Linked DNA regions of Homo sapiens: region 2 is linked to region 1. The links come from fine-mapping of genetic effects on gene expression. A gene starts in region 1. The other region holds a variant in brackets. All regions are shown on one strand. Distances are between the middles of the regions.

The links. PIP is the estimated chance that this variant, and not a neighbour inherited with it, causes the effect. A credible set is the group of variants that fine-mapping cannot tell apart.
Region 2: its variant is the best candidate, but not a certain one, in a credible set for the expression of CALM3 in whole blood (TOPMed, PIP 0.56).

The regions. Positions count from the first base shown.
Region 1 is chr19:46,596,866-46,609,664 of GRCh38, forward strand. It overlaps CALM3 (calmodulin 3), which reads left to right and starts at 4,465. Exons shown (of 6, transcript NM_005184.4): 1 at 4,465-4,572; 2 at 8,962-8,992; 3 at 11,332-11,475; 4 at 11,617-11,723; 5 at 11,981-12,116; 6 at 12,260-12,799. The coding sequence starts at 4,570. The coding sequence ends at 12,288. LOC124904729 (a long non-coding RNA gene) reads right to left here and starts at 12,295. Exons shown (of 2, transcript XR_007067276.1): 1 at 12,233-12,295; 2 at 10,959-12,140. It also overlaps the pseudogene PPP5D1P. RefSeq lists enhancers at 3,730-4,229, 5,958-6,027 and a silencer at 4,360-4,499.
Region 2 is chr19:46,559,951-46,576,225 of GRCh38, forward strand. It overlaps the pseudogene PPP5D1P. Among named protein-coding and RNA genes, the nearest start is that of CALM3, 33 kb to the right of the region's middle. The variant C/T (reference allele first, on the strand shown) is at 8,509.

The sequences.
Region 1 (12,799 bases):
ACTTTTTATTTTTATTGAATCTATTATAGGTTTTTGCATTGTGGTTACCTTAAGGCTTATAAAAAAATCTTATAACAAGTTTTTTGTTTTTTGTTTTTTTTTGAGATGAAGTTTCATTTTTATTGCCCAGGCTGGAGTGCAATGGCACAATCTCGGCTCACCACAACCTCCGCCTCCCAGGTTCAAGCGATTCTCCTGCCTCAGTCTCCCGAGTAGCTGGAATTACAGGCATGTGCCACCACGCCCGGCTAATTTTTTGTATTTTTAGTAGAGAAGCGGTTTCTCTATGTTAGTCAGGCTGATCTCGAACTCCCGACCTCAGGTGATCCGCCTGCTTCAGCCTCCCAAAGTGCTGGGATTATAGGTGTGGGCCACCGTGCCTGGCCCCCTTTTTTCCTTTCTTACTGTCTTCCTTTGTGGTTAAGTGATTTTCTCTGGTAGTACGTTTTAACTTGCTACTTTTTATTTTTATTGAATCTATTATAGGTTTTTGCATTGTGGTTACCTTGAGGCTTCTAAAAAAAATCTTATAACAAGTTATTTTAAAGCGATAACATCTTAGATCACAAAGAAAAAAATAGAAACAATGAATAAAAACTCCACACTTTATCTCCTTCCCTCCCACATTTTGACTTTTTGTTTCCTCAATTTACATATTTTTATTTTGCTTGTCTTTTAACAAGCTGCTATAGCTATTATTGTTTTAATTATGGGGTCTTACTGTGTTGCTCAGACTGGCCTCAAACTCCTAGGTTCAAGTGATCCTCCTGCCTCAGCCTCCCAAGTAGCTGAGACTACACCCAGCTCAATATTATTGTTTTTGATAGATTTGTCTTTGAGGCTTTATGGTAGAGTTAAGAATGAATTGCATACCACAATTACAGTATTGGAGTATCCTGGGTTTCTCTGTGCACCTAATTTTACCAATGGGTTTTATACCTTCAAATATTTTCTTTGGCCAGGAATGATGGCTCACACCTGTAATCCCAACACTTTAGGAGGCCAATGGGGGAAGACTGCTTGAGCTCAGGAATTCGAGACCAGCCTGGGCAACATGGCAAAACCCCATCTCTACCAGAAAGAAAATACAAAAATTAGCCAGGCATGGTGGTGTGCACCTGTAGTCCCAGCTACTCAGGAGGCTGAGGTGGGAGGATCACTGGAGCCTGGCAGTTTGAGGCTGCAGTAAGCTATGATTGGGCCACTGCACTCCATCCTGGGTGATAGAGCAAGATCGTGTCTCAAAAAAAATTTTTTTTCTTTTTGCATGGTTTTTTTTTTTTCCGGATTGAGGAACTCTCTGGAACTGTCTTTCTTCAAGAGAGCATTTCTTATAATACAGATCTGGTAGTGGTGAATTCTCTCTGCTTTTATTTGGGAAAAACTTTATCTCTTCTTCATATTTGAATAATAGCTTTGCTTGATACAGTATTCTTGTATGGCCTTCATGGTTTTGATTGAGAAGTCTGTGGCCAGGTAAATTAGAGCTCTTTTAAGTGTTATTTCCTTCTTTTCTCTTACTGTTTCTAGGATCCTCTCTTTGTTCTTGACCTTTGAGAGTTTGATTATTATATGCCTTGGGGTAATCAAATCTATTTGGTGTTCTCTGGCCTTTCTGTACCTGGATATTTGCAATTTTTGAATGTCTTCCATTGTTTCTTTGAATATCCTTTCTATCCCCTTGCTCCTCCTCAGCTCCCTCTTGAACACCAATAATTCTTAGATTTTGTCTTCTATATTTCGTAGGTGATTTCCATTCCTTTCATTCTTTTTTCTTTTTTCTTCTGTATGTATTTACAAACAGCCCGTCTCCAAGTTCACTGATTGTTTCCTCTGCTTGACCCACTCTGCTGTTGAGAACCTCTAATGAACTTTTCAGTTCAGCAAATGTATTTCTCAGTTCTAAGATTTGTTTGGGTTTTTTTTAAATTATTATTTCAATCTCTTTGTTAAATTTCACTGATAAATTTCTGCGTTGCTTTTCTATGTCGTCTTGGAATTCACTGAGTTTCCTTAAAAATGCCATTTTGAATTCTTAGAAAGCTCACATATTACTGTCTTGTTAGGTTTAGTCACTGGTCCCTTACTTGGTCCATTTGGGGAGCTCATGGTTCCCTGTTTGCTTTGGTTTGTTGTTAATGTACATCTATGCCTTTGCACTGAAGGATTAGTCACTTATTCCAGCCTTCTCCGTCTGGCTTGTTTTGGCTTTTACTGGCTCCATTTGCTTACAGATTCTTCGTAATTGACCTGTTGGTTTCTTTTTTTCTGCTAGGTTGCTGCCTCCTTTTTAGCACTCAGTGGCACCTTAAAACCAGGTTTGCCTTGGCTCTATTAAAGATCAGAGCGTCTCCCATCCCGAATGGGGGAGGTCCCAAAGGGGATATCCCAGTAGCATAGGAAAGCTGGCTAGGGGTTCATTCCCAGGGGAGCTATGGAAGAAACCTCCCACAGCATGGTGCTAACGAACAGCCACTCTGATTTGGCATCTCCTTTGGCCAAGTTATAGAGTAGAGAGAGTTTCCAGGGCTGGGGATGGTAGTCCCACCTCCCCACTTTGTCTGTGGCTATTCTCAGAGGATATTTCTCCCTTGAGGCACTCCTGATGGTTGTATTCTTGTGATTACAGCACTTTGGGAGGCCAAGGCAGGCGGATCACTTGAGCTCAAGAGTTTGAGACCAGCCTGGCCAACATGGTGAAACCCTGTCTTTACTAAAAATACAAAAATTAGCCAAGTGTAGTGGTGGGTGCCTGTAGTCCCAACTACTTGGGAGGCTGAGGCAGGAGAATCGCTTAAACCTGGGAGGCGGAGGTTGTAGTGAGCCAAGATCATGCCACTGCACTCTAGCCTATGTGACAGAGCAAGACTCCGTCTCAAAAAAAATACAGATCTTGTGTGAACTAACAGAATAAGAACTCACTTGTTACCGTGAGGACAGCACCAAGTCATTCATGAGGGATCCACCCCTATGACCCAAACACCTCCCACCAGGCCCCACCTCCAACATTGGTGATCACATTTTAACATGAGATTTGAGACTGAGTAACAAGTGTTAGGATTAAAGGCATGAGCCACCGCGCCCGGCCATCTTCTTTACCTCTCCACTGTGTCAGTTTTATTTTTCTCTTCTTCTCTAGACACTTTGTTCCTCAAGATAGGGGGCAGAGTGGGAAAATGACCATAGTCAGAATCTATGGGAAGGACCCACCCAAAAGGAAAAGGCTTCTTGTGCCCAGGCTGCAGATCCAAACCCCAGGGAAGGACTCTCATTGGTTCAGTCTCCATTCTGTTCCAGGTGGAGCATAATGATTGGTCCAGCCTGACTCGTTTGCCCATCTCTTAACCATCAACATGGTGGGGAGGGGACACGCAGGAGACTGTCAGCTCCTATCCTAAACGGGGGAGGGGGCAGGGGTGATCATTTTCTGAGCTCCTATAAACAAAGTTTCAGTTCTTTTTCCTCCTATGGCTGGAACACTGGAATAAGGAAAGAGGTCGTCTGTCTGGAGAGGCTGGTTGGGGAGTATGGTCTCCCCAGCCCAGCCAAGCTCAGGTCCCTGCATACAGCAGGCGCCTAATTGATGCTTATAGCACGAATGACTGAATGAATACCCCGTTCCCACAGGCTGTCCTGGGATGGTCCTAATTTCACAGACCCTGAGCGGATCAAGAATGAAGCGGGCCCAGGGGTCCCGCCCACCGGCTGAGTGCGTCTTAGGACGCAGAGACAAGACCACGGAGGGCGGAACCTCTGAGCGTTAGGTGGCACCTTGGAGACCCCGCCACCTCCAAAGGCCCAGTTAGGGGCGGAGCTTCTAAACCCTAGCATTTTGGATTGAACCATCGTCCGTCGGTTAAAGGGGAGAGCCGAGAAAGCCCTTCTGCATTTGTCGCCAGCCTTTTTACCACCTCCTGGCCACAGAAACGACGTATTTGCTTCTCTAACGGCGACGCCGTTTCCCCCTTCGCCTCGTTACTCCTCAAAGCCCCACGCGGCCACAGAGTTCAGACTTACCCACCACCACCTTGCAGTGGCTCGCCCCAGTTTGACGCATTGCAGGGAAGGTCGGACCAATGGGCGCCAAGCTCTCATTTCCGCCATGGGCCAGGCCCAATAGTGACGCGGCTCACAGAGGGACGCGTCACGCACCGCCGAGCTGTGCCCCTCCGCCGAAGAAAGTGAAGTGGGCCCGGGAGGCGGGGCGCGCGGCGAGGGAAAGTAGTCCGGCGACGGGAGCGAGCGCGCGCGCGCCCGGCGGCAAACCCAATTCCTGTGCAGGGTGGGGACGAGAGATTCGCGGGCCCGTAGGTGTGGAGCGGGGCGCGGAGGGATCCGTGGGAGCCGCAGTGCGGCGGCGCGCGGGCCGGGTGGGGCGGGGCCGAGCGAGGCGGGGCGCGCGCGGCGGCCGTTGAGGGACCGTTGGGGCGGGAGGCGGCGGCGGCGGCGGCGCGCGCTGCGGGCAGTGAGTGTGGAGGCGCGGACGCGCGGCGGAGCTGGAACTGCTGCAGCTGCTGCCGCCGCCGGAGGAACCTTGATCCCCGTGCTCCGGACACCCCGGGCCTCGCCATGGTGAGTGAGGCTGGGGGGTCGCCGAGGCTGCGGGCTCTGAGGCGGGCTTAACGGGGCAGGACCCCTGAGGGGGCGACAGAGCCCAGAGTGGGGGGCGTCCGGGCCCGGCGAGAGCCTCGGGACCCTTTTCTACCCGCGTTGTCGGGGGCTGTTGAACCCAGAGCGGGACGTCTGGATCACCAGAGGTTTCCAGAAGCGACTTTAGCACCAAATGGGATGTTTAAGTCCACAAATGGGTATCTGAGCCCCTAAAGGGGACATTTGAACCCCGGATGGAGGATCGGGACCCTCAGTGGGACCCCTCAAAAGGATTTTGGACCCAGGATGGGGCGTTGGGTTTCAGGATGGAGGTGTTTGGACCCCAGGGGACGAAATAAGAAAGATGGGCTGGGGAGGGGAGCTATTCGGGCCCTGATGAAGGCGTTTGGTCCTGAGAGGATGCGGGGAACGGGGGACGAAGGGAGGCTGGGCTGCTCCTGGATGGGGTGGTGGAGGGTAGCTGGGCCCGGGCGGGGAGGGGCGACCCCTGGGCTCCTGTGGAGCAGAGGAGAGGGTCAAGGATGGGCGGTCACTTCTACAGATGAGACTCCCGAGGGTGGGGGAGGGTGGGGGAGGGTGGTCTCCAGAGCCCAGCACTGCAGAGGAGGAGGAGGGTGAGGTGCAAGCTTATGGGAGGAAGAGCCTGGGGTGGGTGGCAGCGGAGATTAGAAGATACTCTTGAAGGCTTCCGGGACGGAGAAGGATCAGGGTCGTGGAGGTGGTGAAAAGGGATGGTGAGAGTGGGGCTCGCCAGTAGTCGGGGGACAGGGACCCTTGGGGTTAATTTGGAAGTAGCTAGAAAAGGTTCCGAGGTTACTAGTGGGTTAAGACTGTTGCTCTAGAAAGACAGAATTTTTTTAACGGGGTGGGAGTGTTGTGTTTGGGTCCAAGAGAAGATGGATTTCCAAGGTGAGGGGTGGGGGAGGACTTGGGCTTGGGTGGTTGGGAGGTGAGGTGGAAGGAGAAAATGAATGGCAGTCAGGGGGGCCTAGGTTTGGGGGTGGATGTGGGTAGCACCCTGCCAGTCTCCAGGGACAGGCCAGGACAAAGACGGCTCAGTGTGGATGGGGAGTGGGCTGCAGGGCCCGGAGGAAGCTTTTCTACCGTCCTCCTTCCTCAGGAAGAACGCGGCTGGGTGGAAGACACCGGGGCAGTGGGAGCAGGTGGGCGGAGCTGTTCGGGCCCCTATTGCGCACTGAAGCCTCATGAAATGGGGATGGGAGATCAAAGTTTGGGGTGCCTCGAATGAGCCAGCTTTTTCAAGCCTAGAAGCCTCACTCTGTCGCTGCCCTTTTCAGGCCAAGAGCACTGCCTTTTCCCAGCAGGAGCGCCGGTTTTCTCATGATCCCCAGCCCCACGCACCATGCTGCACCTCGTCACTTGTGCCAAATGACAGTGCAGTACAGTGTGGCGTCAGTGACAATCAGATGCCTATTCCCGTGCCCTCGGGGTGGGGGCTGCAGAGCTTGATCAGAGAGTGCCTCTGGGGAGACCCCTTGATCGGCCTGAGGGCCACTTGTTCCATTCAGGGCCCTCGCTGAGCGTGTCTGTTAATTCACAGGGCTTTGAGAGAAAACCAGCAGACTAGTTCTTTCCTACTCCCTGCCACCCACAACACCCACAGCCCCACCAGGCTGAGCCTGGGAACCGTGTGCAGCCATCCTCCCTGGCAAGGCTGGGGAGAACAGGCAGCCGCTGCTGTGTATCAGATCTCATACTTGCTGACACAGACCTGATGGCTCCTCTTGCCGCTACCCCATTTTCCCCCAGCAGAACCTGGCTAAAAGGGGCCCTGAAGCACTAGCAGGCCCCCTACCTCCAGAATAGGACCCAAGCTTTGGCCACAACTAGTTTCTCTTTCTGTTTGTAATCAGCAAGGTAGAGGTGGGACAAGTCACTGGTAACTGGCCTTGGACTTTGGCCTGAGCTCTGTGGCTCCTCCTTGGCCCGGGTGAGGGGCCCTGGCCTTGGTTTCTGATCTCATCTAACACTGCTCTCTGGCATTGGCTGGGGGCTGGGGCAAGGCAGAGAAATCACACCCTCTTCCCTCCCCCACCTCATGGTTTTTTTTCTTGTCCAGCCCCTTGCTGGAGCCTAAGATGAGGGATAAGGAAGCAGGAGACCAGCTGAGTTATTTTGGAAACAGTTTTTGTTGAAAGTTTAGTCTTCAGGTCTAGAAAGGGAAGAAACCTTGAGCAAGGATCAATGATATCTTCTTAGGCGGTCGGTTTTCTGGGCGGCAACCTTGCTTGAGATCTGTACCTTTCCTTGACCAAGCAGGGAAGTGGGTCTCCAACATGGGAGGGAGAGCATCTGACAGGCCCTCCATGCAGAGCCACGCCTATTTGCAGCAACCCTGTGACAGAACTGAACATGGCAGTGCCTCATCTGCATCTTCCAGTCTTTTGGTGGAGACTGGCAAACGGTGGCCTTCAGAGCCGCTCGGGGCAGTCTGCAGCCTGTCACAGCCTCCTCGCCCCCACCCCCAGCCCCTTACAGTGCTGCCCAAAGGTCCGGGGAGCTGGACTTCTTGCAGGGCGGAACAGTGGGCTGGGAAGGCCCTGACCTGGCTCGCTTTTTCCATTCTAGGCCAGGGGAAAGAATGAAAAGCAGATGGGATGGCAGCCACCTCCCCACACTGCTGCCCTCCTCTCTGTTCTTTCCCTGACCCTCCCTGGGCATTGCCTGGTCTCGGTAACCAGAAGCCCATCCTCCCTTCTCACTTTCCCTAAGCCTCTTCCTCAGGTGTCAGGACCTAAGGGATGGCTCCAGGCTTTTTTGTCCATGGTGGGAGGTGGGGGGCAGGTGGATCAAGAGGCTCATGGGCCTGGGGCTACCAGGTTGGCATTTAGAAGCCCAACCACCCTGTCTTTTTTGAAGGCAATGCAGAAGAATCTTCATTTGGCCTCCCCACCTCCCCTTTACACTTTGGACTTTTCCAGAATGTGCATGTGTGCCGTTTTCTCCCTTCCTCTTTCCCCCTCCCTAAGCCCTCTCCCCTCTGTGATCATCATTTTGATTACCCCTCCCATTCTGCCTATTTGGGGCTTGCAAGTTCTTCTTCCGTTAGGTTTTTTTTTTTTTTTTCTAACTTTTTTAGATCAGTGATTGTTAATATTTGGGACGGGGATGGGGGTAGGGGAGGCAGGCAGTGGTTTGTTCCTAGCTTCTGGAACCTCTCCGTAGAATACTGCAAATTCACATAATAGTCTGCTTCTATTTCTGAGGCTCTCAGACTCGAGACTAGAACATGCTATAGACTTGGAGCCCCTTTCCCTGATTGTGAAAGGAAGGGGAACAGACCCACCATGGTCCCGGGATGGTGGTGCCTTCTTCACAGCATCAACAAAAACCAGGGAAAATGTGTCTTTTGGCTGCTAAAGCTAAATGTTGGGATTCAGCCTCCCCAACCCCCCAGCCCCGCTCCTGCCCCATAGGATCACTATGCCTGGCTGATGCCCAGCACACCAGTGCAGGAGAAGCCAGTCCCCGCATCTCCTCCCCACCCCCAAACCCCGCATGCAGCAAGGGCTGCCTGCCACCCACTGGCCAGTCCCCAGAGTGCCCAAGCTGGAAAGGGTTAAAAACTGCAGTGCAAGCCAGCTTCAGTCCTCTGCTGCTGCCCGCTGCAGCCCTCTCCCTGACGTTTGTCCCTTCTGCCCAAAAGAAACAAAACAGAATGGCCCTGTGCCCTCACTGTGCGCAGGGGGTGGAGCGCCTGCCTCCAGCCTGACCAGAGTTCTTTAGGTGCTTGAGCAACTCGGGCCGCCGGTTAGGAGAATTTTTGCCACTTGGGTGGACTCTGCCTGAGCCAACCGCCTCCAAATAGGTGACACAGAAACTAGCAGAGATAGCCCCAGACATCGTCCCTCTGCCCTACCCAAGGACTGGCCTGCTTCAGTTTGGAGCCTTCTAGAGCTTCTTGATGAGGCCTCCAGGGCAATCGTTCCCTTCACTCGGCCTCTGGGGCTCTCACTGATGAGATGCAAACCTGTGCCAGGCCTCACCAGCGCTGCTGGTTTGGGGCTGGGGCAGGCTTTTCTCCCGCCCCTGTGGCTCCCACATGCTGAGTTGAGATTGGAAGCCCGTGGGTCTGGGCAGCTTCATCGGGCCGTGCGTCCAGCAGGCCTGAGTGTCCAGCCCACCCTGGTACCCAGCTTTCTGAATCACCAGACTTTATCATCAGGCGCTGGCTCTGCCTCAGACCCTGACTCTGGCATGCTCCTCCCTGGCCCGGCGGGAATGGCACGTGGAGCTGGCCTCACTGGGGCCGAGGGTCTGGGCTGAGTGAGGAAGATGCGTCCGTGCTGTCCGGCCTGGTGACTGACTTTCCCCTTCATGCTTTTACAGGCTGACCAGCTGACTGAGGAGCAGATTGCAGGTGAGTCTGCTATCCCCCTCATCTTAGCTCAGGAAAGCCTCCACATCCCCAGCCAAATCTTAGCCACTGAGGAGTGACATCTGATGGGTGAACCTGTGTATCCCTTGTGTCACCTAACACTATGCCTTGTGCCTAGAATGCTGATAAATGTGTGTAAGAGCACACCAGTGCCCCAATGACACGAAGCCCCATGGCCCTGAGACAGGCCTTTACCAGACACCAAAGGCTGTGTTCCTCTCCTGGGCCTGGGTCATCTAGGGGCTTGATATCAGTGGCTGCAGGACGAGCCCAACTCTCTCTCCCAGCTTCAGCCAGGTTGGCTTAGAAGGTGAGCTCCCTGCCTCCCTGTGGGGCCTGCAGAGCTCCTGTCCCACTTTAGGAGCCGCCCAGGAGCTGGCTCGTCACTCCCACCTCTGCGCTTGCCTGCGCTTTGCACTTCCTTTCGCATGTGCCTGCGCCTGCCTGTTCTGCTGGCGGAAGTGCCTCCCCAGTGCTTTGCATGGGCAGCTCCTTCCCGTCCCTTAGCTCAGATGTCCCCTCGGGGAGGCCTTCCCTGACCCCCATCTCAAGTACACAGCCTTCCTTTACTCTCCTTCACATCACTTTATTTTCTTCATAACCTTTCTCGCTGTCTGAAATTATTTTCTTATGTCTTCACCTGTTGTATCTCCTGTTACTAGATGTGAGTTCCATTGAGTTTGGGACTTGGTTTTGTTGGTCCCTGCTATAGCCTTAATGCCTGCCTAGAACGTAGTAGGTCCTCCGCAAACTTTTGCTGGCTAAACAAACATCTCTCTCTCAGCAAGCTAGAAGAAATCCCTGGATCCCATCTAATTCATTTTTCTAACCCCTCCAAAACCCCAGAAGGGTCAGCTACAGGAACTATTGTGTAATTACAGATCCGTGCCTGCCTACCCGCCCATACTGAGCTGCCCGAGGACAGAGAGCAACTCTTGGTTTATCTCCATAGCCAGGGGCCAGCACACAGTAGACCAGAGTAGCGATCCAGAGAATGGGCCTCTGCTCCCCACCAGCTACCCAGCCCCCAGCTCTGCTGTCAGGTTCAACCGGCTGTGTAACAAGTACTAAAGGCCCAGCTTCTGCGGTGGGAGGCAGGAACGGACTTGCCTTCTCTCCTTTCTCCCCTCAACCCGCATCACAGAGTCACCTTTGCAGCTTCAAAATTTTGGCCCTGGGTGGCTATGGAGACCCCTGAGGAAAGCCAGAAGATGGCCTGGTTTAGTGATCATGAGCTCGGGGTGCCCCATGACCCACTCACTACCTGCCCTCCCCAAGAACAACAAGGCCTCAGCACAGGGAGGTGCCAGCCTCCCCAAAGAGACTCTTGCCATGTCCCCAGGGCCCAGAGGCTCAGGGCCACAGCTTCCCAGCTGTGCATGTCCCTCCCAATGCACCTGCCACCCATCTCCCAACTCTGGCCTTGTGCAACATAAACGGTCTGCTTTTCACCCTGTCCCCATTAGCAAACTGTCCACCGCCTCACCCCAGCCCACACCCTCTGGGAATAGGCTGCCGGACATCTGTTTTTGGAGGGCTTGGGGGTAGAGGAGCACCAGGTGCCAAAATGGGCCCAGTGGGAGGGCAAGAGCCATGTGCTTTTCTCCCTGCCCCTGATGCGGCCCCAGCTGTGGCCTTCCCACTCAGCACTGCTAGCTCCTCATCCTCCTGGCTTGGCAGCCGTCCCCTCGCTTTCCATCCCCCCATCAACCCCACGCACTGTCCGTCAGCCATGTTCTGCTGCCGACCACCCCCACGCTCACCACACGCAGTGGCTCAGCTCCTTTGGAAGCTGGTAGCACCCACGGCAAGGAACAGGGCTGCCAGTCAGAAGGGAGTGGATGCCTGCATTTCCTCTTCAGGCCGGCCAGAGGCATTCTGCAGCCTCCCCTCCTCGTCCCAGCCAGCCAACCCTGGCTAACACACTCAGACAAAGAATCCTTTCGGCTCTCATTCACTCCATGACTTTGGTTCATTTCATCATTTCAAGGGAGAAGTCAAAGCCAGGGACCAAACAGAAATGTAGAATCATCTAAGGACAGCTGTCAGACCATTTTCCCCACTGTCTTCACTGGCTGGCCAGAAAAATAGCTTCACCTAGCACAGTGTTGATGTTCAATAACTGTTGAATGAAGGTTGGAAGGGCTTTGCCCTGAGCACTGAGGAGAGAGAGCTGGTTGCGTGGGACTTGAAGTCTGTCTCAGTTTCTTTAGGTGGGACTGATGCCCTTGGCCTTCCTCCAGGGAAGGCATCCAGCATCCAGAGGTAAGGATTCTCCTGTGGACCTTGTGACCTCTGACTCCTCCCCCTTCTTCCCCCAGAGTTCAAGGAGGCCTTCTCCCTCTTTGACAAGGATGGAGATGGCACTATCACCACCAAGGAGTTGGGGACAGTGATGAGATCCCTGGGACAGAACCCCACTGAAGCAGAGCTGCAGGATATGATCAATGAGGTGGATGCAGATGGTGAGCCCCACAGAGCGCGTGGGCAGCCCTGCTCCTGGTCACCCCGAGTGACTGCAGGGAGCCTCTCTCAGGGTGATGGATGAGCCCGTGTCTCTCAGGGCCCAGGCCAAGAGCATTCTCCATCCTTTCCCCACCTTCCAGGGAACGGGACCATTGACTTCCCGGAGTTCCTGACCATGATGGCCAGAAAGATGAAGGACACAGACAGTGAGGAGGAGATCCGAGAGGCGTTCCGTGTCTTTGACAAGGTAAGCAGCCCTCTCCAGGGGCGGCTCTGAGACTGACGCCAGCCTTCAGGCAGACAGGCGGAACTGGAGCCACGGAGCTACCACTTCCAGGAGGTCCGGGTCCCGGTGCCAGCCTCATTGCCAACCTGCTCTGCCACCTCAGGCAGCCTCCCTCACTGTGCTCACTGCTGAGGGATGGTGATGACAGCCACCCCTCTCACTGCCTCTCTCCCCACCGGGAGAAGTGCCCAGTGAAAGGCTTTATCCCCAACCCCCAGGATGGGAATGGCTACATCAGCGCCGCAGAGCTGCGTCACGTAATGACGAACCTGGGGGAGAAGCTGACCGATGAGGAGGTGGATGAGATGATCAGGGAGGCTGACATCGATGGAGATGGCCAGGTCAATTATGAAGGTGAGTCAAGGCCAGGCTTGATCTCTGGAACAAGAAGAGAATCGCAGCTTCAGGAACAAGCCCCCAGATCCCTCTTGTTGGGGAGGGCCGCTCGCCACTTAGCCTGCCCGCCTGACCTCCTCTCTCTCTGCTTCACTCCACAGAGTTTGTACAGATGATGACTGCAAAGTGAAGGCCCCCCGGGCAGCTGGCGATGCCCGTTCTCTTGATCTCTCTCTTCTCGCGCGCGCACTCTCTCTTCAACACTCCCCTGCGTACCCCGGTTCTAGCAAACACCAATTGATTGACTGAGAATCTGATAAAGCAACAAAAGATTTGTCCCAAGCTGCATGATTGCTCTTTCTCCTTCTTCCCTGAGTCTCTCTCCATGCCCCTCATCTCTTCCTTTTGCCCTCGCCTCTTCCATCCATGTCTTCCAAGGCCTGATGCATTCATAAGTTGAAGCCCTCCCCAGATCCCCTTGGGGAGCCTCTGCCCTCCTCCAGCCCGGATGGCTCTCCTCCATTTTGGTTTGTTTCCTCTTGTTTGTCATCTTATTTTGGGTGCTGGGGTGGCTGCCAGCCCTGTCCCGGGACCTGCTGGGAGGGACAAGAGGCCCTCCCCCAGGCAGAAGAGCATGCCCTTTGCCGTTGCATGCAACCAGCCCTGTGATTCCACGTGCAGATCCCAGCAGCCTGTTGGGG
Region 2 (16,275 bases), 35 kb before region 1:
CTCCCACAACACGTGGGAATTGTGGGAGCTACAATCCAAGATGAGATTTCGGTGGGGACACAGCCAAACCATATCACCGTGTAAACCAGCATTGTCCTCCCAAGTAAACACCTGTGATATTCTGTACCAGAAGCAGAACCAGAATTTCCAGAGTTCTTTCTATTCCATAAGTAGATTATTTCATGACGACTAACCCTGTATCTGATAAAAATAAATAAATAAATAGGCCGGGCGCGGTGGCTCACGTCTGTAATCCCAGCACTTTGGAAGGCCGAGTCGAGCGGATCACGAGGTCAGAAGATCAAGACCATCCTGGCTAACACGGTGAAACCCTGTCTGTACTAGAAATACAAAAAATTAGCCGGGTGTGGTGGTGGGCCCCTGTAGTCCCAGCTACTAGGGAGGCTGAGGCAGGAGAATGGCATGAACCCGGGAGGCGGAGCTTGCAGTGAGCCGAGATTGTGCCACTGCACTCCAGCCTGGGTGACAGAGCGAGACTCCGTCCCAAAATAAATAAATAAATAAATAAATAAATAAATAAATAAATAAATATTTTTTAAAAAAACAGACTCCTATTTACATAGAACAAAATGAAACTGATGAAGGAAATCTGCTTGTGGTTATTTTTAATATTATTGAGAATTGCTTTACAAATGTTCTTTCTTTTTATGCGCATAGGAAGAAGCTCTTTTCCTTTCTTCGTGACCCACTGCCAACTCTCAATTTAACATTTATACTTGAGGAAATTGGAATGAAAGCCTCTCAGTAGTATTTTTCCATCTGACTCTTCCAAATTCTGGAAAATATATCCTGTGTCAAATCTCAATATAAATTATAAACTGTCCGGGTGCAGTGGCTCACACCTGTAATCCTAACACTTTGGAAGGCAGGGGTAGGATGATGTCTTGAGCCCAGGAGTTTAAGACCAGCCTGGGTAATACAGCGAGACCCCATCTCTACAAAAAATAATTTTTAAAAAATATTAGCCAGGCGAGGTGGCACACACCTGTAGTCCCAGCTCAGGAGGCTGAGGTGGGAAGAGTGCCTGAGCCCAGGAAATAGAAGTTACAGTGAGCCATGATTGCACCACTGAACTCCAGCCTGGGTAACAGACCAAGACTGTCTCAAAAAAAAAAAAAAATTGTAAGCTAACAAATCATCAGAGACTGAAATATTATAATAATTCTAATCAGAATGCAGATGAATGCATTTATGATGGGTAAGGCTTAGAAAAATTATAACTGCTCCTTAGCAAAGAACATTGGTTGTGCTTGAATTTTATGGTTATAATGTATCAATAAATAACTGAACCATATTTATATATATTATATCTGGAAAGATCCATAATGATTCTGATAAAAATATGAAAAACATCAACTGACTAAGTAGTCGGTGCAACTACTTAGAATAATGGGTAGATATTATTACAAATAACTTCATCCTTTCTGACAATGCAGAATAACTTCATCCATCCTGACAATGTAGCATTTTCATGAGTTTAATATGCATTGGCTCCCATTGTTGCAAGGATATAGACAAATCAAATGTACTACCAAGGCTATACTGACAATATCGTATGTGAGAATAAAGCCAGTTAATCTAGTCAGAAAAGCCCACCATTATGGAACAAAGGCTGATGTGTAGAACTTCATTTGTAGAACCAGATCCTACAAGCCCTCCCAGGAAATTAAACCAGTATATATGCTGTGGTTTACAGGATCTCAGTCCAGACTTAAAGGATCTTGAAGGAGGAAGAATTCACCCATAAAAGTAGGCAGCAGGGTGTGGTGGCTCACGCCTGTAATCCCAGCACTTTCGAAGGCGATCACCTGAAGTCAGGAGTTTGAGACTAGCCTGGCCGCATGGTGAAACCCCGTCTCTACCAAAAAATACAAAAATTACCTGGGGGTGGTGACACATGCCTGTGATCCCAGCTCCTCGAGAGCCCAAGGTGTGAGACTCGCTTGAACCCAGGAGGCGGATGTTGCAGTGAACCAAGATTGCGCCACTACACTCCACCTCCAGGTGACAGAGGGAGACTCCGTCTCAAAAAAAAAAGTAGGCAGTAAAAGAAAGTTCTATTCGTTCCAGACTAATAGAGTCCAGTCCAAATATACAACTCTAGATTCCTTACATAATATCCAGACAGAAGCTAATTCTCTGGTTTTAGCAGTGCTCACCACCACATAATTCTAGATTTACTAACCATACAACAAGGAGGCCTCTGTGTGCAATTAACACCTCTTGTTTTATCTATGTAAGTTTACCAAGCCAAATAGGACAGAGCCTACGCTATATAAAGGTACAATTCAGAGACCACATGAAATAGCCACCACTGAGTCTGTGTACTAATATAAATGATATACAAACATTATTGATCATTGGGATTGGGAATATATGCCACAAACTAAGCTCCAATTTGTTTTCTATTTCCCGTAACATTTGTGAGTTATCCGATATTTTAATTAAGAATAGTACAAACCAGAATCAGACCAACCCCTTATTTTATCAATAGCTACCTTTAGAGATAACATGATTTCAGGAGCTCTGTGCAGGAAACTTATTCAACACTTGGAAAATAAGACTTAAAAATGATTTTCGTCTGGCGCAGTGGCTCATATCTGTAATCCCAGCACTTTGGGAGCCGAAGCAGGTGGATCACCTGAGGTCAGGAGTTTGAGACCAGCCTGGCCAACATTTCAAAACCCCGTCTCTACTAAAAATACAAAAATTAGCTGAGCATGGTGGCGGGCGCCTGTAATCCCAGCTACTCGGGAGGCCTGAGACAGGAGAATGGTGTGAACCCGGGAGGCGGAGCTTGCAGTGAGCCGAGATTGTGCCACTGCAGCCTGGGCGACAGAGCGAGACTCTGTCTCAAAAAAAAAAAAACACAAATGGAAGGAAGGCTGGGGCTGGGGTTGTGGGGCCCACCCCGTGTACACTCCACGTGGCCCAGCTGAGAGCTCCTCAGGTTGACTCAGAGCACAGGCAGACAACAGGTATCCTAATTTGCTTCCAACACCAAGGCCCTGGCGTATTTCAGAAAACCTCGGAAACAAACCCTAAATGCTCAGCATTTGGAGGCACTAAAAACATGCACAAAACACACAAGCATTGAGTGATTTATTTGCCATGATCTCTTGCTGCTGTTCAGATCCAAGAGACCTCAGGGAGAAGGGCTGAGCAGGCAGGGGTGTCCATCCGGCCACCGCCTCTCCCTTTCCTCTTGAGGGCTCTGGGGGGTGTTGGACTCACATGAATAATCCCAGATCTGAGGACGCTGACACTGTCACTGATGGGACAGAAAGCAGTCACGAGACCAAGTCTGGGCTCTCCTGGGGCTTCCGGTCTACTAGGATAAGTGGAAACTAAATAAACAACTAGAAATGCAATCATTTCATGGAGCAAAAACACATGCTACCAGGAAAGTCCAACTAGGTGATGTGGTGGAAAGTGACTGCAGGAGGACTCTGCTTTAGGTAGCAGGGCTGGGGAAGTTGGTGACACCTGGCAGGAAGGAATACAAAGGAATACAAAGGAGGTAGCCATGGTGGGCAAGGGGAGTGACAAGAGGAGAGGCCCAGGCATGGAGAAGAGAAGAGAAAGTGAAAGTGCAGAGATTTTTGTTTGTTTGTTTTTTGTTTTTTGAGACGGAGTCTTGCTCTGTCTCCCAGGCTGGAGTACAGTGGTGCAATCTCAGCTCACTGCAACCTCTGCCTCCCAGGTTCAAGCAATTCTCCAGCCTTAGCCTCCCAAGTAGCTGGGATTACGGGTGCACGCCACCATGACTAATTTTCGTATTTTTTGTAGAGACGGGGTTTCACCATGTTGGCCAGGCTGGTCTCCAACTCCTGACCTCAGGTGATCCACCTGTCTCGGCCTCCCAAAGTGCTGGGATTACAGGTGTGAGCCACCACACCCGGCCAGTACAGAGCTCTTTAGTGAAGAAATTGGAGGACTTGAGGATCTGAGAGAGGCCAGAGGACAGCCCCCAGTGAGCAAGACTCAGTGAGTTCTCAACTTGAGGCAGGAAGAGATCAAGATATAGAGGCTCCTATTTTATTTCATGCATAAGACAGAGCCTTGGAGAGTCTTCAACAGGGGTGACAAGACCTGGATTGTGCTTTTTTTTTTTTTTTTTTTGTAGAGTCTCACTCTGTCACCCAGGCTGGAGTTTAGTGGTGCAATCTCGGCTCACTGCAACCTCTGCTTCCCGGGTTCAAGCAATTCTCCTGCCTAAGCCTCCCAAGTAGCTGGAATTACAGGTGTGCACCACCACACCCAGCTAATTTTTTTGTATTTTTTGTAGAGACAGGGTCTCACTGTGTTGCCCAGGCTGGTCTCAAACTCGTGAACTGAAGCGATCCACCTGCCTCTGCCTCCCAAAGTGCTGGGATTACAGGCATGAGCCATCATGCCCAGCTGGATTGTGCCTTATAAAAGTCCCTTTGGCTGAATGTAGAGAGAAAATTTGAGGAAAGCAGGGGTGGAAATGAGTGGCCAGATTAGAAGGCTGTTTGCTCAAGCAGGAGAGAGAGCATCGTGGCTTGGGTGAGGGTAGGGGGAGAGGGAGGTAGATTCAGATTTGGGATTGATTTTGGAGGCATGACTAACCTGTGTTCTCACGAAAATGGATTTGTCCCCAGAGCAACTACAAGTCTATGTGACATCAAGGTTCATAAGACAGGAGAATCACCAAGGGAAAAATAGGGCCCCAACCAATAAGACAAAAGGAATAGATGTAAGGAGAATTGGAACAGGGCCCTAAGATCTAGAAGTGCTGGTGTTGGAGGTCAACAGAGTGTCATTCACTTTGTCAGCCAGCATTTCCACCCCTCTGGTTTGGTGTCAGTGTTTATCTGCTGGCTTTCTGCTTCATTCTTAGTCATCAGCACCCTCCTTTGTACCACCAGGCTAGAAGCCTGCAAACTATATTGCCCAGCTTCCCTTGTGAGATGGCTTCCCAATAGGTTCTGCTTGCAGGAAGCACCACTTCTCAATTCTTTCTGCTTCTAGGAGGGCCTCTGGCCACAGCCAAAGAGGTGAACAAGGTCCCAGTTCCCACTGGTCATGAATTTGTAATGTGTCAATTTCATTAAGCTGAAGGAGGTTTCCCACAAGCCTTTCCCTATGCAGCTGAAAGTTAGCATGGGCCCCAGGAGACAACGTGCATGAATGTGGAAGGCAGAAGGGAAGCAGAAGCCACATGCTTTTGTGTTGGGCAGGTGGGTGCAGGCCCAGGCACTGTGGCTGTCATGCACGTTGTTTGCACCTTGAGGCTCTCCCTGGGGATGTGAGGCAGCAGCCAGGCCCCTACCTCTCCCAGCTCCCACAGGATCCTCCTGCAGGTACACATTTAACTCCAAATCAAAGAGCAGTGACTTCTCCTGGAAGACATCCGCTCATGAAAATTGGAGTCCTGGAGACTGTGAGGGTCCCGTCTGTCTACATGGCTTCCCACTGATCCTCTCAGTTCGTCTTCCCTGGCTTCCCCACTTTGTATCCCATCTTCCCTTCCCAATACCTGCCCTGCTGACTTCAGGCTGTACCAGCAGATGCAGAGAGATCACCCTTACATAGATGGCTCAACCAGCTTATGCAATGCATATGGTCAAATCCCTATCACCCATCCCTTATGAATTGTGATATTCAGCTTCCTATATCCATTTACCTAGATGATATGGTTTGGCTGTGTCCCCACCCAAATCTTGTCTCCGAATTGTAGCTCCCATAATTCCCATGTGTTGTGGAGGGACCTGGTGGGAGATAATTGAATCATGAGGATGGTTCCCCCGTACTGTTCTGTAGTAGTGAATACGTCTCATGAGAGCTGATGATTTTATAAGGGTTTCCCCTTTCACTTGATTCTCATTCTCTCTTGCCTGCCACCAGGTAAGACGTGACTTTTCCCTTCTGCCATGATTGTGAGGCCTCCCCAGCCATGTGGAACTGTAAGTCCATTAAACATCTTTTCCTTTATAAATTACCCAGTCTTGGGTATGTCTTTATCAGTAATTTGATCAAACACTAGTATCCAGTTATTTGATCAAACACTAACCTAGGTGTTGCTATGAAAGTATTTTGTACATGTGACTGACATCTACTATCAGTTGACTTTAAGTAAATTATCCTAGATAATCTGGGTGAGCCTGATCCAATCAGTTGAAAGGCCTTTGGGGGAGCAGAACTGAGGTTTCCCTGAGGAAGAAGGAATTTTGCTTTTGAATGACATCAACTCCTGCCTGAGAGTTTCCAGCCTGCCCTGTGGATCTTGGACTTACCTAGCCAGCCCCTAAAATGGCAGAAGCCCATTCATTTGCAATAAGTAAATACATAAATACATAAATACATGTACACATATATGCATACATATATACATGTATGTATATATATGTGTATGTGCATATATCTTAGTCTGTTTTGCTTTGCTATCAAAAAAATACCTGGGCTGGGCGCGGTGGCTCACGCCTGTAATCCCAGCACTTTGGGAGGCTGAGGTGGGTGGATCACAAGGTCAAGAGATCGAGACCATCCTGGTGAACATGGTGAAACCCTGTGTCTACTAAAAATACAAAAAACAAATTAGCTGGGCATGGTGGCGTGTGCCTGTAGTCCCAGCTACTCAGGAGGCTGAGGCAGGAGAATGGCTTGAACCTGGGAGGCGGAGGTTGCAGTGAGCCGAGATTGCGCCACTGCACTCCAGCCTGGCGACACGGCGAGACTCCATCTCAAAAAAAAAAAAAAAGAACCAATCTGAGCCTGGGTACTGGGTAATTCATAAAGAAAAGAGGTTTATTTGACTCACCAGTCTGCAGTGTGAGGGCCACAGGCTTCTTCCACTCATGGCAGAAGTGGAAGGGTAGCTGGCATGTCCAAATCACATGGCAAGAGAATGAGCAAGAGAATGGGAAGATGCCAGTCTCTTTTTAATAACCAGCTCCCAGGGGAACTCTTGCAGGTGCTAATAGAGAGATAACTCACTCACTACCAAGAGGCTGACACCAAACCAATTGTGAGAAATTCACCTCCATGACCCAGACACCTCCCATTAGGTCCCACCCCTGACATTGGGGATCAAAATGCAACATGAGGTTTGGAGAGTCAAATATCCAAACTCCAGCAGCATATATGTGTATTTATATGCATACGTGTATATATCATATCTATATCTCCTACTGGTTCTGTTCTTCTGGAGAACCAGGACTGATACCTGGATACGTATATGCATATCCACATCTTACTCCTCATCATTCTCTTTCTCTGGCTGACACCTGGCTGGTACTTTGCTCTCCCAGAGCAAACCCAGAGAAGATATTTTATTTTGCTGGTATTTCACTTTCCTACTTGCTCTTGAGCATCTGTCTTTTAAAAGCTTATATGAGAACTAACAACTCTTGTTCATGCATTCCTGCATTTATTCCACAAATCTTTTTTTTTTTTTTTTTGAGATTGGGTCTCACTGTGTCACCCAGGCTGGAGTGCAGTGGTGCAATCTTGGCTCACTGCAACCTCTGCCTCCCAGGCTCAAGTGATCCTCCTGCCTCTGCTTCCTAAGTAGCTGGGACTATAGGCACATGACATCAGGCCCGCTAATTTTTGCATTTTTTGTAGAGGTGGAGTTTCACCACGTTGTCCAGGCTGGTCTCAAACTCCTGGGCTCAGGTGATCTGCCTGCCTTGACCTCCCAAAGTGCTGGGATTATAGGCATGAGCCATTCTGCCTGGCCTACTCCACGAACTTTTGAACGCCATGCACAAACATACTCTGTGCTGTGCTGTCTGATGACACACAGGTTACAATACTGATAATGGTCCCTACCCTCACAGACATCACTGTCCAGTGATGGGGGAAAGAGAGGGAGTGGGGAGAAGAATATTTATTAGTTATGTATTAGTTATCTACTGCCATATAACAAGTGTATTAGTTATCTACTGCCACATAAGAAATTACACCAGGCCAGGCATTGCGGCACATGCCTGTAATCTTGGCACTTTGGGAGGCCGAGGCAGGAGGATCACTTGAGCCCAGGATGCCGAGGCTGCAGTGAGCCATGATCGTACCACTGCACGCCAGCCCAGGCAACAGAGTAAGACACTGACTCAAAAAGACAAAAACAAAGGCAAAACAAAAATTACACCAACATGTATTGGCTTAAAACAAGAAACATTTACGATGTCACAATTTCCAGCAGTCAGGAATCTGGGTGAGGGTAACTGGGTGGCTTTGGCTGTAGGTTCCTCAAGGCTAGAGTCAAGGGGCTGGCTGGAGCTGCAGGCATCTCAGGGTGGAAAATCTGCCTCCAGACTCACTCATGGCAGTGGGCAGCCCTCAGGTCCTTGCTGGCTGTTGGCTGGAGGCATCAGTTCCTTGCCCCATGAGCCTCTCCCCAGGCAGTTCCCATAATGGAAGCCCCTTCCATAGAGCAAGCAAGGCAAGGTGGGGAGGACCAGCAGGACATAAACCAGTCTTCCAGTAACCTGTACCGGGAGTGACATCACATCACTTCTG[C/T]CATATGCTGTTTGTTAGAAGCTTGTCACTATGCCCAATCTACACACAAAGGGGTATAGGTCCCAGAAGGGCATGAATACCACGAGGCTGGACCACTGCAGGTCATCCTACCATAAGTAAACATGTTAAGATGTTAAGATAATAAATATGACCATGGCTCCACCTGGTGGGAAACAATGGCAAACAGAGTGACGAGGTAGAAAGTTCTAGTTTTAACAGTTTTTTTTTTTTTTTAAAGACCAAGTCTCGCTCTGTCACCCAGGCTGGAGTGCAGTGGTGTGATCTTGATCTTGGCTCACTGCAACCTCCACCTCCCAGGTTCAAGTGATTCTCCTGCCTCAGCCTCCCGAGTAGCTGGGATCACAGGCCTGCACCACCACACCCAGCTAGTTTTGTATTTTTAGTAGAGACAGGGTTTCGCCATGTTGGCCAGGCTGGTCTCCAACTCCTGGCCTCAAGTGATCCGCCCACCTCGGCCTCCCAGTGTGCTGGGATTACAGGCGTGAGCCACCACTCCTGGCCTTAGTTTGAACAGTTTCTGACTTCATAGTTGTGTTGCCAGATAAAGCAAGGTCACTCACATTTATCATGACCAAGTGAGATTTATCCCAGGGATGCAAGGATGGTTCAACATATGCAAATCAGTCAATGTGATACATCATATCAATACAATGAGGGAAAAAAACCATATGATCATTTCAATTGATGCTGACAAAGCCTTTAATAGAATTCAACATCCCTTCATGATAAAAACCCTCAAAAAATTGGGTATAGAAGGAACATACCTCAACATAATAAAAGTCATGTATGACAGACATACAGCTAGAATCATACTGAATGGAGAAAAACTGAAAGCCTTTCCTCTAAGATCTGGAGCAAGACAAGGATGCCCACTTCCCCCACTGTTCTTCAACGTAGTAGTGGAAGTCCTAGCTACAGCAATCAGAAAAGAGAAAGAAATAAAGGGCATCCAGGTTGGAAAGGAAGAAGTCAAATTATCCTTATTCGCAGATAATATGATCTTATATTTGGAAAAGCCTAAGGGCAAAAGATCAGAATAGACATTTTTCAGAAGACACACAAATGGCAAACAGGTATATGAAAAGGTACTCAACATCAACATCATTGACCATCAGAAAAATGTGAATCAAAACTACAACGAGATATCACCTCACCCCAGTCACAATGGCTTTTATCCAAAATATGTAATAACAAATGCTGGCGAGGATGTGGAGAAACGGGAACCCTCATACACTGTTGGTGGGAATGTAAATTAGTACAGACACTCTGGAGAACAGTATGGAGGTTCTTCAAAAAACTACAAAGAGAACTACCATATGATCTAGCAATCCCATGCTGTGTATATACCCAAAAGGAAGGAAGTCAGTGTATCCAAGAGATACCTGCACCCCCATGTTTGTTGCAGCACAGTTCACCACAGCCAAGATTTGGAAGCAAGCTGAGTGTCCACCAACAGACATATGGATAAAGAAAATGTGGTACCTATGCACAATGGGTACTGTTTTGTTGTCGTTGTTGTTATTGTTGTTATTGTTTTTGAGACAGAGTCTCACCCTGTTGCCCAGGCTGGAGTGCAATGGCACGACCTCGGCTCACTGCAACCTCCGCCTCCTGGGTTCAAGTGATTCTCCTGCCTCAGCCTCTGGAGTAGCTGAGATTACAGGCGCACACCACCACGCCCAGCTGATTTTTTCTTGTATCTTTGGCAGAGATGGGGTTTCACCATGTTGGGGCAGGCTGGTCTCAAACTCCTGACCTCAGGTGATCCTCCCACCTCAGCCTCCCAAAGTGCTGGGATTACAGGTGTGAACCACCATGCCTGGCCACAATGGGATACTTTTCAACCATAACAAAGATTGAGATCCTGTCATTTGCAACAACATGGAGGGAACCAGAGATCATTATGTTGAGTAAAATCAGCCAGGCATGGAAAAATAAATGTCCCATCTTCTCACTCATTTGTGGGAGCTAAACATTAAAACAATTGAGTTCATGGAGACGGAGAGTAGAAGAATGGTTACCAGGGACTGGGAAGGGTAGTGGAGCAGGGGGAAGTGGGGATGGTTCGTAGTTATAACAATGCAGTTAAATAGAATGAATAAGTTCTAGTATTTGATAGCACAACAGGGTGACTACAGTCAACAATACATTTTAGGGCCGGGCGCAGTGGCTCACACCTGTAATCACAGCACTTTGGGAGGCCGAGGCGGTGGATCACCTGAGGTCAGGAGTTCGAGACCATCCTGGCCAACATGGTGAAACCCTCTCTCTACTGAAAATACAAAAACTAGCCAGGTGTGGTGGCACACACCTGTAATCCCACCTACTCAGGAGGCTGAAGCAGGAGGATCGCTTGAACCCAGGAGGCAGAGGTTGCAGTGAGCCGAGATTGCACCACTGCACTCCAGCCTGGGTGACAGAGCAAGACTCTGTCTAAAAAAAAAAAAGAAAAAAACAAACCCATACTTTACTGTACATTTTAAATAACTAAAAGAGTATATTTGGGGTGTATGTAATACAAAGAAATTGTACATGCTTGAGGGGATACCCCATTTACCCTAATGTGATAATTACACATTGCATGCCTGTATCAAAATATCTCACGTATCCCATAAATGTATACACTTACTCTGTACCCGTAAAAACATTTTGGGCTGGGCATGGTGGCGCACGCCTGTAATCCTAGCACTTTGGGAGGCCAAGGCGGGTGGATCATGAGGTCAGGAGATCGAGACCATCCTGGCTAACACGGTGAAACCCCATCTCTACTAAAAATACAAAAAATTAGCCGGGCTTGGTGGCGGGTGCCTGTGGTCCCAGCTACTTGGGAGGCTGAGGAGGAGAATGGCATGAACCCGGGGGGCGGAGCTTGCAGTGAGCTGAGATGGCGCCACTGCACTCCAGCCTGGGCAACGGAGCGAGACTCCATCTCAGAAAAAAAAAATTTTTTTTCAAAAAGAATTTTTTATAAAAACATGTCACCCAGTTAAATTTGAATTTCAGATAAACAACAAATACTTTTTTAGTATGAGTATATCCCATGCAACATTTTGGATATATTTATTTAAAAACACCTCATTGTTTATCTGAACTTTAAATTTAACTTGGCTTTCTATCTTTTTAGTTGCTCAGTGTGGCCACCTTCCTCCAGGGCAGCACAGGGCTCAGGAGTGGAGGAGCCAGGCTAGGGACTATGGTACCAAAACCAGCCAGCAGGTTAGAGGTGAGGACGCAATGATGACAAACTCCTGGAGAGGGAGACATGGAGGCAGGATCAGCAAAATGTCGGGGAAGAGGACTGAGCTTTTTTTTTTTTCTTTCTTTTGAGACAGAGTCTCCCTCTGTCGCCCAGGCTGGAATGCAGTGGCACGATCTCGGCTCACTGTAACCTCCACCTCCCAGGTTCAAGTGATTCTTCTGCCTCAGACTCCCGAGTACCTGGGACTACGGGTAAGCGCCACCACACCTGGCTAATTTTTGTATTTTTAGTAGAGGCAGGGTTTCACCATATTGGCCAGGCTGGTCTCGAACTCCTGACCTCATGATCTGTCCACCTCGGCCTCCCAAAGTGCTGGGATTAAAGGTGTGAGCCACCGTGTCCGGCCCTGAGCTTCTTTTTAAACCCATAATAAACCACATATTTAATGTCTTTACATTATTGCTGCCTGAGTCCCCCCCATGAGAAGGAAAACTCCACAAAAAAACAGGGACTGCTGTCTGATTTGTTCATTGCTGTGTTCCCAGTACCTAGAAGATGACTTGGCACCTAGCAGGCGCTCAAGAAATGTTGTCTGAAGGCCAGGCGTGGTGGCTTATGCCTGTCATCCTACCACTTTAGAAGGCCAAGGTGGGCGGATCACCTGAGGTTGGGAGCTCAAGACCAGCCTGGCCAACATGGCAAAACCCCGTCTCTACTAAAAATACAAAAATCAGCTGAGCATGGTGGCGGGCATCTGTAATCTCAACTAATCAGAAGGCTGAGGCAGGAGAATTACTTGAACGCTGAAGGTGGAGGTGGCAGTGAGCCGAGATCCTGCCACTGCACTCCAGCCTGCGAGACAGAGCAAGACTCCATCAGAAAGAAAGAAAGAAAGAAAGAAAGAAAGAAAGAAAGAAAGAAAGAAAGAAAGAAAGAAAGAAAGAGAGAGAGAGAGAGAGAGAGAGGAAGGAAGGAAGGAAGAAAGAGAAAGAAAGAAAGAGAGAAGGAAAGAAAGAAGGAAAGAAGGAAGGAAAGAAGGAGAAAGAAAGAAAGGAGGAAAGAAGGAAGGAAGGAAAGAAGGAAGGAAGCAAGGAAGGAAGGAAGAAATGTTGGCTGAAGAAATGAATCTTTGAGTTGCTTAAAGAATCTCAGCTCTCTGGCTCAGGAGTCAAGGATGAGAGGAGGACAGGAGGAGATGAGTCTGCTGGGAGAGACAGAGGAGTCATCCCTGGGATGGGGATGTGAGAGGAACAGGACTGGTGGGGGAAGATGCTGAGATCAACTTGGACACGGTGAGTGGAAAGTACCCAGCAGACATCTGGAGAGAGACATTCAGGAATCCCTTGTCTAGCCAAGCCTGGAGCTCAGAGAGAGAACTGGCGTGGTAGACAGAAAAATGCCCCCTCCAAGGATATCCACGTTCTAATCCCTAGACTTGTGAACAGCTTTGCTACTTGGCAAAATGGACTGTGCAGGTGTAATTAAGCTAAGGCTGTTGATATGGGGTGATTATCCTAGCGTACCTGGGTGGGCCATTATAAACACAATCCTCACAAACACAATGCTCTTTATAAGCGTTATGGGTTGAGTGGTGTTTCCCAAAAAGATATGCTGAAGCCCTCTTTCCCAGTCCCTCAGAATGTGACCTCATTTGGAAACAGGGTTGTTGCAGATATGATTAATTAAATGAACATAAAGTCATGGCCAGGTGCAGTGGCTCAGGCCTGTAAACCCAGCACTTCAGGAGATCGATGGTAGAGGATAGCCTGAGTGCAGGAGTTCTAGACCAGCCTGAGCAACATAGCAAGACCCCCTCTCTACCAAAAAAAAAAAAAATTTTTTTTTTTTTGACAGAGTTTCACTCTTGTTGTCCAGGCTAGAGTGCAATGGCACGATCTCTGCTCACTTCAACCTCCACCTCCTGGGTTCAAGTGATTCTCCAGCCTCAGTCTCCCAAGTAGCTGGGATTACAGGCGCCCGCCACCACTCCCATCTAATTTTTGTATTTTTAATACAGACAAGGTTTCATCATGTTGGCCAGGCTGGTCTTGAACTTCTGACCTCAGTGAGCTGCCCGCCTTGGCCTCCTGGGATTACAGGCATAAGCCACGGTGTCTGGCCTCTACAAAAAAAAATTTTTTTTAATTAGCTGAGCGTGGTGGCACACACCTGCAGTCCTAGCTACTTGGGAGGCTAAAGCAGAAGGATTATTTAAAACCAGGAGTTTGAGGCTGCAGTGAGCTATGATTGCACCACTGCACTCCAGGCTGGATGGCAGAGCGAAACCCTGTCTCAAAAACAAACAAACAAAAAAAATTCAAGGTGTTGGCAAGGCCATACTCCCTCTGAAACCTATGCCCTTATCTCTCCATTCAGGTTTCCCATTTATACCTTTGGAATTTGTAGTTATTGATTTCCACACAATTGCAACCAAGGCTGAATGGGGCCCCGGGCTCCAGCCACAGGGCTGGGCATGACAGCCACACTGGAAGTCATCAGCACAGAGACAATGCTGGGAACATCCCTGAGAAGTGGGAGCTCCTGACTGCCCACACAAGCAACAGATGTCAGCCTTGGGCTTTTGTCCTTCAAGCTCAAGTCATCTCTCTGACCGTTTCTTGCCAGCCTCCCCAGGCACCTCCTCTTCCCTCCCCTGAGCATGATCCGTGGCTGCCCTGTGCCCAGGCCCTCTTGCCATCTTCACCTGTTCTCCCCGATCTCATTCATTCTCACCACTTCTGTCTCTCATTCCTTTCCCTCCCTGTGCATCTCTGTCCTCAGCCCCAGTGTGTTCAGGTCTTCTTGCTGCTGTAATGAATGACTACAGGCTAAGTGGCTTAAACAATACAAATTTGCTCTCTTGCAGTTCTGAGGGGTAGAAGTCTAGCACGGGTCGCACTGGGTTAAAATCAAAGATGTGCTCCTTCTGGAGGCTCTAGGGCAGGAATCCCCAACCCCCACGCCACACACTGTGATGTGGTTTGGCTCTGTGTCTCCACCCAAATCTCATGTCAAATTGTAATCTCCACATGCCTGGGGGAGGGACCTGGTGGGAGGTAATTGGATCATGGGCGCGGTTTCCCCCACGCTGTTCTCATGATAGTGAATGAGTTATCATGAGATCTGATGGTTTAAAAGTGTGTGACAGGCCGGGCTCAGGGGCTCACGTCCATAATCCCAGCACTTTGGGAGGCCGAGGCAGGCAGATCACCCGAGGACAGGAGTTCAACACCAGCCTGGCCAACGTGGTGAACCCCTGTCTCTACTAAAATACAAAAATTAGCCAGGCATGGTAGCTGGCGCCTGTAATCCCAGCTATTCAGAAGGCTGAGGCAGGAGAATTGCTTGAACACAGGAGGTAAGGTTGCAATGAGCTGAGATCGTGCCACTGCACTCCAGCCTGGGTGACAGAGCCAGACTCCTCAAAAAAAAAAAAAAGTACATATATATATATATATATATATATATATATATATATATATATGATATTATATATGAGATACATATTTTATATATATGATATATATGATATTGGGAGGCCAGGCACAGTGGCTCATGCCTGTAATCCCAGCACTTTGGGAGACTGAGGCAGGTGAATCACCTGAGGTCAGAAGTTCGAGATCAGCCTGGCCAACATGGCGAAATCCTGTCTCTACTAAAAATTCAAAAACGTAGTTAGGTGTGGTGGTGTGTGCCTGTAACCCCCACTACTTGGAAGGCTGAGGGTACAAGAATTGCTTGAACCCAGGAAGCGGAGGTTGGAGTGAGCCAAGATCACACCACTGCACTCCACCCTGGCAACAAAATGAGACCCTTTTTCTTTGAAAATAACTTAGAAATTAGCTATGCAAAGTGGTGCAGGCCTGTAGTCCCAGCTACTTGGGAGGCTGAACAAGAGGATGGCTTGAGCCCAGAAATTCGAGGCTGCGGTGACCTGGGATCACACTACAGCCTGGGTGAGGGTGAGACCCCATCCCTTTAAAAAAAAAAAAGAAAGAAAGAAAGAAATTAAAAACAGCCAGGTGCAGTGGCTCACACCTGTAATTTCAACAGGTTGGAAAGCAGAGGCAGAACCACATGATGGGACCTTGTCTCTACAAAAAATTAAAAAAAAAAAAAAAAAGATTGGGTGGCTTAAACAACAGACATTTATTTTTTCACAGTTCTGGAGGCTGGGGAGTCCAAGATGAAGGTGCCAGCAGATTCAGTTGTTGGTGAGGCCTTGCTTCCTGACTTGCAAGCAGACGCCTTTTTGCTGTGCCTTCCCATGGCCTTTCCCCAGTGTGTGCACGTGGAGAACGTGAGCTCTGGTTTCTCTTCCTCTTGTTTTTTTTCTTTCTTTCTTTTTGAGATGGAGTCTTGCTCCATAGCCCAGGCTGAAGTGCAGTGGCGTGATCTCGGCTCACTGCAACCTCTGCCTCCAGGGTTCAAGCGATTCTCCTGCCTCAGCCTCCCAAGTAGCTGGGATTACAGGCACCCGCCACCATGCCTGGTTAATTTTTTTGTATTTAGTAGAGATGGGCTTTCACCAGGCTGGCCAGGCTGGC